Linked DNA regions of Homo sapiens. The protein of the gene in region 2 purifies or fractionates together with the protein of the main gene of each other region. This does not show direct contact. Each region holds a gene or a part of one and is shown on either strand. Other genes may lie near its edges.

What was found. Proteins that work in one complex are often made in the same cells at the same time.
Region 1: the proteins of STUM (region 2) and SLC44A2 purify together in Homo sapiens (affinity purification with mass spectrometry; one large-scale study listed by BioGRID and IntAct). This does not show direct contact.
Region 3: the proteins of STUM (region 2) and TMEM245 purify together in Homo sapiens (affinity purification with mass spectrometry; one large-scale study listed by BioGRID and IntAct). This does not show direct contact.

Annotation. Positions count from the first base shown.
Region 1 is NC_000019.10:10,628,553-10,632,052, reverse strand, and holds part of SLC44A2 (choline transporter-like protein 2), read right to left. Parts: intron 997-3,500; coding exon 912-996; intron 779-911; coding exon 668-778; intron 579-667; coding exon 518-578; intron 428-517; coding exon 304-427; intron 186-303; coding exon 102-185; intron 10-101; coding exon 1-9.
Region 2 is NC_000001.11:226,604,264-226,607,763, reverse strand, and holds part of STUM (protein stum homolog), read right to left. Parts: 3' UTR 1-3,500.
Region 3 is NC_000009.12:109,016,792-109,018,947, reverse strand, and holds part of TMEM245 (transmembrane protein 245), read left to right. Parts: 3' UTR 1-2,156.

The DNA.
Region 1 (3,500 bases), on a different chromosome or scaffold from region 2:
ACCAGGCCTCTGGGGAAAAGAAAACGGTCATGAACAGACTCCACCCTCAGCCAGGCTTAGAGGGGGCAGCCAGGGGAGAGGCCCCTTCCCTCCTGACTTACATGATAATCCAGTACCAAGAGACGGTGTAATCTTCAAATATGCGCATGGCGAGTTGCCGCGCCTCTAGGACTCCATTGGCTTTCCTGGGGGAAGGAGGACAAGGCTCGGGTCAGACCCTCTTCCATGATCAGGCCAACCACAGGGGATTGCCTGTCCCACCCAGCAAAGTGAGACCCTGGCGCGGTGCGCCAATATCCTCACTTGGCGCCCTCCACCAGGTCTGTGATGTTTTTCCGGGAGCCATGCCCATCCTCATAGGTCGTCTCATTGCCCACCATCAGGACACCCTTGTAGGCGTGGATAGCGGGGAAGCATCTCCGGGCCACTGCATGGAGCAGAGGATGGCACCAGTCAGGCTGAGCCTCTGCAGAGCCTCCCCGTCACCACCTGAGCCTCCTGGGATCCCCTGACTCACAGGGTTTGCTGGGGATGAGGACAGCAGGGCAGTCACCATCTTGAAGCACCTCAGCCACTCCCTGCCAAGAGAGATGGAGGGAGGTGAGTCCCCAAGTCTAGTACACTGCCACTGCCCATACCTGTGCTCTCAGGACAGTCTACAACTCACTTTATTGTTCTTGAAGCCAGGAACACAGAACTGCTTATAGTACTCAAAGTCCCGGGAGCTGCGAGCATTCAGGTACGTGAGGTAGCGGTCGGGGCATTTTTCCACGCAGATCTGGGAGGGGAGAAGGAAGGGATTGGGTGGAGTTGGGGCAGACTGCTCAGGACTGAGGTCGCAGCCCACATTCACAGGGGGAAAAGGATGGGAAGCGGGGAGAGGAAAAAGGGAACGGTGGGGACCAGGTTACCTGGGGAGTGGGACATTGGAATTCCAGCAGAACCAGGGGGCTGGCACATTTCACAATGTTGAAATAAAACAGATAGGGTTTGTTCCTGGAGTTAGAGAAGGGAGAATGGAAACTGTTAAGATTTTTTTTTTTTTTTGAGACAGAGTCTCGCTCTTGTTGCCCAGGATGGAGTGCAATGGTGTGATCTCGGCTCACTGCAACCTCCGCCTCCCGGGTTCAAGCAATTCTCCTGCCTCAGCCTCCCGAGTAGCTGGGATTACAGGTGCCCGCTACCAAGCCCGGCTAATTTTTGTATTTTTAGTAGAGATGGGGTTTCCACCATGTTGGCCAGGCTGGTCTCAAACTCCTGACCTCAGGTGATCCGCCTGCCTTGGCCTCCCAAAGTGTTGGTATTACAGGTGTAAGCCACCACACCCGACCTGTTAAGACTTCTTAACCACCCTATAGAAAACTTTTTTTATTTTTCTCTTTTTTTTTTTTTTAGATGGAGTCCTGCTCTGTTGCCTAGGCTGGAGTGCAATGGTGTGATGTGGGCTCACTACAACCTCCGCCTCCTGGGTTCAAGCAATTCTCCTGCCTCAGCCTCCCGAGTAGCTGGGACTACAGGTAGGTGCCCGCCACGATGCCCAGCTAATTTTTGTATTTTTAGTGGAGACGGGGTTTTGCCATGTTGGCCACACTGGTCTCGAACTCCTGACCTCAGGTGATCCACCCGCCTCAGCCTCCCAAAGTGTTGGGATTATATGCGTGAGCCACTGCGCCCGGCCTCTTTTGTTTTTTTTTCTTTTTTGAGACAAGAGTCTTTCTCTGTTGCCCAGACAGAGCGAGCAGTGGCACAATCTTGGCTCACTGCAGCCTCTACCTCCTAGGATCAAGTGATCCTCCACCTCATCCTCCTGAGCAGCTGAGACTACGGGTGTGCGCAACCACACCTGGCTAATTTTTTCTATTATTGGTAGCGACAGAATTTCACCATGTTGCCCAGGCTGGTGTCAAGCAATCCTCCAGTCTGGGCCTCCCTAAGTACTGGGATTACAGGCGTGAGCCACCGTGCCCGGCCTATTGTTTCCTTTAAGATATTTTATATGGCCGGGTGCAGTAACTCACACCTGTAATCCCAGCACTTTTGGAGGCCAAGGCAGGCGGATCACCTGAGGTCAGGAGTTCGAGACCAGCCTGGCCAACGTGGCGAAACCCCGTCTGTACTAAAAATACAAAAAATTAGCTGGGTGTGGTGGCGGGCACCTGTAATCCCAGCTACTTAGGAGGCTGAGGCAGGAGAATTGCTTGAACCTGGGTGGCGGAGGTTGCAGTGAGCCAAGATCGCACCATTGCACTCCAGCCTGGGCGACAGAGCGAGACTCTGTCTCAAAAAAAAAAAAAGATATCTTATATAGGGCCAGGCAGGGTGGCTCAGGCCTGTCTTGTGCCAGCACTTTGGAAGGCCCAGGTGGGAAGATCGCTTAAGCCCAGGAGTTCCAGGCTGTAGCGAGCTATGATCCTGCCACTGGCTGACAGAGTGAGACACTGTGTCAAAATAATAATAATAGTAATAATAATAATAGGCCGGGTGTGGTGGCTCACACCCGTAATACCAGCAGTTTGGGAAGCCAAGGCAGGCAGATAACCTGAGGTCAGGAGTTCGAGACCAGCCTGACCAATATGATGAAACCCCGTCTCTACTAAAAATACAAAAATTAGCTGGGCATGGTGGCATATGCCTGTAATCCCAGCAACTCGGGAGGCTGAGGCAGGAGAACCGCTTGAACCCGGGAGACGGAGGTTGCAGTGGGCTGAGATTGTGCCACTGCACTCTAGCCTGGGTAACAAGAGCAAAATTCCGTTTCAAAATAATAATAGTAATAATAATAATAATAATAGTTTAAAAACTGCAGCATCAGCAACTCTATGCCAGGTGCCATTCTTTTTTTTTTTTTTGAGATGGAGTCTTGCTCTGTTGCCTAGGCTGGAGTGCAGTGGCACGATCTCGGCTCATTGCAACCTCTGCCTCCCAGGTTCAAGCAATTCTCCTGCCTCAGCCTCCTGAGTAACCGGGATTACAGGAACATGCCACAATGCCCAGCTAATTTTTTTGTATTTTTAGTAGAGACGGGGTTTCACCATGTTGACTAGGCTGGTCTTGATCCTCCCACCTCAGCCTCCCAAAGTGTGCTGGGATTACAGGTGTGAGCCACCACGCCCAGCGATGCCAGGTGGCATTCTAAGCTCTGTACATGTATTGGCACATCTAACCATCAAAATAGCCCCATGAGGGTGGGACTGTTATGATCCTCATTTTAGAGATGAGGAAAACGAGGTTCAGAGAGATTGAGACACCTGCCCTAGGTCACAGAGCCAGGAAGTGACGCCACTCAGGCTATGCTTGCTCTGTTGTCTCACCTGTTCATCACCACCTGACGCGTAATCCAGGACTGTCCCCTCTCAGTCTCTCCCGCCCTTAAAATGTGTGCTGCCAGAGAACAGGATGCTTACTATCTCATTTAGAGCTGTGTGTCCCCAAGGACTAGACTAGTGGCTGAGGGTAGTGGGACGTTTATCAGTACTTGTTTTCTTTTCTTGTTGTTTTGT
Region 2 (3,500 bases):
GGGAGAGGGTTTGAGGGCCGAGTTTCCCTAGCTAAATGCAAATCCAGATGACTTGCACTGGAAACTCAGGACACACACATGGTGGACGCTACAGGGCACCTTTCTGCCCTCTGCGGTAGCATCAGGAGGGGAGAGTGGAATTGGGGGCCAGTGTTTCTGTTCTGCTAGAAAGAATCTTGCCAGCTGCAGCGAGGAGGTGAGGCCTGGGCAGGAGCGGACAGCCCTTGCCCGGATGGGGCTGGGCCTCCAAGCCCTTGGCTCTGACAGAAATGGGGAAACGATGGCTGCCTAAGCCCTTCTTTGTTCCTAACCTATAGATGGTTAAACTGAGGCGAGAGGCAGTCGGAGAGACGCCGGCAGTCATAACAGCACTCAGGCCGGAACTCACTCTTGGGCCACAAGGGAACGTTTGGGGAAGAATCCCTCTGGTTGGGATTCTTCCTATCTCTGCAGGGCCTGGGATTGAGGGTGGTGCATGACTGTCTGAGCGTGACCACCTCCATGCCCCATGATCCCGTGAACATCCAGCTCTAAGAATCTTGCAGGAAGAAAACTGATTGATGAAAAACACAGGCCCCTGAGCCTTGCACCCACCTGCTCAGGCTGAGCTTTTTTGTGATTATTTTAAAGATCCAAGCTGGTCAGAAGGACCACAGTCACCTCCCCTGACCAGGCTGGCGCCTCATCCCCAAACCCAGTGCACAGAGCTCTCAGGAGGGAGAAGGGGCAGTGCAGTCCTTGAAGAGTGTGTCCCCACGCCTGCCTCTGCTCACCTTGCAGCTTCACCTGCAGAGGCTGGAACAGCAGGAGTGTGGAGGTGACGGCATCATTTCCAAGCACAGGACTGCTGGGCCCACGTTAGCTCTCGATGAGCTTGCTGATGAGTTAATGCAAAGCAGGGAGGTGTCCCCCTGGTGAGGACTGCCCGAGGCCACTACCTGGCTGCTCATTGAGCCCTCTGGAGAGGAAACTCTGTTTTTCCTCAGCCTGAGGCCCGGCTTCTTTCCTGGGAGGGTTGACAGCAAAGGCTTCAGGCTGCTCCCTAAGCCTGAGGCCTCCAGCCACATACAAGGTCATGGTCTCTGGGAAGCTTAGGTGCCGCTCGGGTGCAGGGGGTGGGGTGTGCTTTAAAAGTGCTCTCCCACCTCCAATCTCTCTGATAAAAGCCCTCCAGCAAAGCCAGCAAGAGGGAGGGATAACAGTAAACTCTGCCTTCAGCCACTATTGGAGAACTTCCATTTAAATGACACGCCCCCAAGCATTTATGCAATGCTCAGGGCTTTCTTTGCAAAATTCACTAACACCATAAGAAACAGCCAATGCAATTAAAGCCTAAGGTGGGCCTGGGAGCCTAGAAGGGACCCTGAGGAGGCCTGGCTCTCCACCCTCAAGCCTAGGGGTTGGATCTGGCAAAACTGAAGTGAATTCTCAGAATTGCAGGCATCTGGGCAGGGAAGGGGTTAGCTAAAGAACATGTTTCAGGGTTTTTGGCTTTGTGGGTGTTTTGTATTTTAAAGAGCCACGCTGGTGCAGAAAGACCAGGGCCCTATCAGCTTCCCCTCCTCAAGAACCTCGGGCCTTCGGAAGGCCTTTGACCCGGTCCTGGGGTTTCAGACCCACTTTGTGCTGCCTTACACTTGGTGTTGGGATCTGTGCCTGGCTTTTCTTTTTGAGAGCCGGACCCCTTTGCCCTCCAGGGGAAAAGTTAACCATGTGGCTTTTTTTCTTTCTGCAGTTCCTTTCTGTAGCATCCTCCTTACTGCTTCCGAGCCCTGGGCATCCTGCATGAGGCGGAGTTCATCTCACACCTCTGAGATGCCTGTGCCAGCATGGCTGGAGCCCCTGGCTGGCAGAGCGGGCAACTTGGTCCTGCACATTAGGATGGGGAAGCTCCTAATACCAGCTGTCTCTCTGCCGCCATCCCCCAACACCCTCAGGAAGGGGCACCTTTCTGGGCCTGCCTAAAGGAGGGAGCATGGGTGTGAGGGCTGCCCAGGCAGGTGGGAGTACGGAGCCTTGTGGGGCAGGGTGGAGGCGTCCAGGACCTTCCTAGGAGGTTTTGCCCAACTCCCCCTAAGTGATGACAGGTCTCAGGAGGGGGCCGCCCCCACATATGGGAGGGAGAAGCTTATTTTCCCAGCTTGGGGTGGGGGCGGCTGCTGAGGGGATGGAGAAGAGATGGTAATTTATGTTGCATGTTTAGTGACACAATCCAGACACAGGTGGGATTGTATCACTAAACATGTGACATAATCACCCTATTACTCCTGAGGGGTGAGGACCCCTCCACAGGACCTGCTCTGGGCTGCATGCGATTCTGCTCCTTCTTCTGGGAGTGCTGTAGTGAGTGTGTGGACGGCACAGGCTGTGGGGGCGGCCCAACCTGGCCACTTGCCTGTCCTGCCACTTAGGAGCTGAGTGTTTGGGGGCACATGACTTACTCTCTCGGAGCTTCTCCTCTGACATCTGAAACTCACAAAGGCATCTCCCCTCCCAGGAGCTAAAATGCCCTGCACTGTGCCTGGGTGAGGCTGCTCTTGGGGCTGGATGTGTGGGTCTGGGGCAGCTGAGGGTGGGAACCATGCTGCCTGCCCCTTCCTTACCATGGGAAGGTCAGCGGCGTGGCAGGCTGGGGTAGGCTCTGGCAGCAGAGCCATCAGACTCCTGCCGCTCCCATGGGGACCTGGCCTTCTCAGCCTGAGATCCTTGGTTCTGAAACTGACTCAGAGCTCAACATCCAAATCAACAGTCTCCGCCGTCCACAGGACACACCCAGGCCACCCACAGCTCACTCTGGCTCTAGGGTCCCACTCTGACCCAAGGGAATGACCACCCTGATCCCAGTGTCACAGTTTGGTACTGGGAGCATCTCATTGCCTCTGACTTTCTCTGCAAGCCTGTAATTCCTGCCCTAAACACCCACAGCCAGGGAATGTCCTATTGAATTCCGACCGACAAAAGGCCCCAACCTGGAATGTGCCCTGCAGCCTCTGAACCAACAGCCTTGTCTGCACTATGCAGGCAAAGCCCAGCTTTGTCACCAAAGGGCTGTGTGTCAACCATGCACTTGCCTGCACGAGAACCCTAATTTTCAGCTGGCTGGTGTTTGAGAAGTTAACTCTGGCCCTGGTCTGAGTGGCCAGCTGGAACTATTTGGAGTAAATCAGCCACTGTCCCTTATCTACTGAAGATGATCATGCTGAGACCACGGTCTAATTTAGAGGGGCGGGGGCGCTATTTTGAACCGGTCCCGCCCACATGGCAACCCTCACAGCCTCATTCAGGAGACAGGCAGGGGCCTCTTGGCTTCTCCCACACATCAGTTACCCGGAAAGGGGCCTCCTCCTGAGGCTGATGTTTTCCCAGGTTTAGAGACGCAGCCCTCGGGGGAGAGGAGGATCTGGGGGCGCAGTGGCCCTCCACACACACAAACACACAAACCCCTGTATTAAACCATCCCACACGGGACCCAGGGTGACACCTGCCACTCAAGAAAGTCC
Region 3 (2,156 bases), on a different chromosome or scaffold from region 2:
CATGGCAAAACCCCATCTCTACAAAAAAAAAAAAAAAAAAAAAAAAATTAGCTGGGCACGGTGGTGTGGCTATAGTCTGAGCTACTCAGGAGGCTGATGTATGAGGATCACCTGAGTCCAGGAGGTCGAGGCTGCAGTGAGCCAAGATGGCGCCACTGCACTCCAGCCTGGGTGAGAGAGTGAGACACTGTCCCAAGGAAAAAAAAAAGTGTTGGGGGGTAGTTCTTAAGCGTTGAAGATTTCCTTTTTGGAAAGTATTTAAAGGTAGAAATATTAATAATTTTTCCTAAAACATCTCCCTAAGAAGTCACTGATAATTATAATTAGTTTAAATTTATTCTTACACTACTTAAGAAAAATTTCATTTAGAAAAGGCTACCATGAGATCTTTTGACTATATGGAGTAGACTGCATACAGATCTCTTTATTTCTATTATGAATATTTTAGCGATTATAATCAGCTATTCCACTGAGTATTAGATTTGGTCACTAAGTAACTCATGTTTTTCTTTAGTCAATCATTCATTCATTCACTAAAACATTTGTTGAGAGTTGGCTAAACTCTAGATTCTGTGCCAGGCACTGTACAGGGTGATGGAGATCACTCATAAGAAGGCCTCTTGCTCTTAGCCAGATCATATGTAATACTAAATTTAAATTTTTTGCATTAAAAGGCTAAAAAATCATTTGTTTTTGTTAATTATATACTGGTTGATTTATAGATGTAATTAGCACATATTCATAAGAGACAAATATATACAATGAGTTACTATACATATACAAAGTGATTTTAGCTGTATAAAGTGATATTGCAAAAAACTACAGCTAATGTTTCTTGCTGGGTAATTATTAGCATAAATATCAGGTTCTTAGAGGTCTTTAAGAGAATACTTTAGAGCTACCAAAATTAGCAGCAGTGATGTAATATCACCCTGAAATACCAGGAGCAGAGGTGCCCCAGAGTGCTTCACAGCTATGATCAGGAAACTTGACCTGCCCCATTGCTACAGCAACGGCATAAGGACTAGGAAGGTCCACTAGCTGGGGAGGTCTTGGAACCCTCCGAGCCAGAAAGAAGCATTCCAGCATGATTCCTCAGATGCAATGAGGAAGGTTTACAGAATTTTCACAGGGCAACAGAGATCAAGTGGTATGAAAAGGTAGGAGTTTTAAGCTCAAGTCTCAAAGATAACCTACCTTTACATTCTCAGTCAGAATTTGACCCAGAAAGAGGAAGTTTCTTCAGGAACAGACCGTACGTTGATGAAGTAGAAGTCATTTCAGTAAAAACGGAGTACAGAACTTGGTCATAATATCTTGCATTTTATAGATTTATTAAAGATTAGTTTCAAGTTCACATTCGCTATTCAGTTGTAAACCGAATGGATGGGAGGGGAGAAAATACAAGCTCTCCACACAGGTATGCTCCTCTCTTTTCTGAGAGAGAAGGCATGGGATTTTCAGCATAAATTCCATGTTATGTGAGTGCTGTTTGAGTTCTGAAGTTCCTATCAATATCTGTTCCTGCAAGTGATCTCTGTAAGACCACCTTACATGCTGGTCTTAGTTATTGTTAAAATTGCAAGGTTTCTTCACACCCTCTTTGATAAGAAGTGTTTAGCTGGCAGAGCTTTCCCTTGACTTCTGAGTCTAGTGTGGGTTGGCCCATGACAGTGGGAAGAAATCCAACATGTTACATGGAGACCTTGTATGTAAACAAACTCTGTAGCCTTTGAAAGTGGAACTGCTTTTTACAGTTAAAGGGCTGCTAAATGGCTTGCAGATGAGATCTTCTGGCTCACCTTGATCTTCACATGAACCCATTGTGACCTATCTGGATTTCCTAGGACCTGTAGTTTCCATTTGGGTTATATTAGTGCCTCAGGAATGTGTCACTACTGGTCAAGCAATACTCAGAAATTCAGGCTGTGAGGGGTTAGATTAGAGGAAAGTAATTTAGGTGAGCTATCCAGAGCTTTCAACCTCAGGGTTTATAGGAAAAAAAAACAAAATACAAAAACCCTTAGGACTTCTCATACTCTAGCCCTGACCTTGCAGTCTCCTCTGAGGGGCCTCCTAAGACCCTTAAAATAATATTACAATAGGACTTTGAGTGTGCATTTCACAGTGGAAATAGCCTCTGGCTAGCATTACTT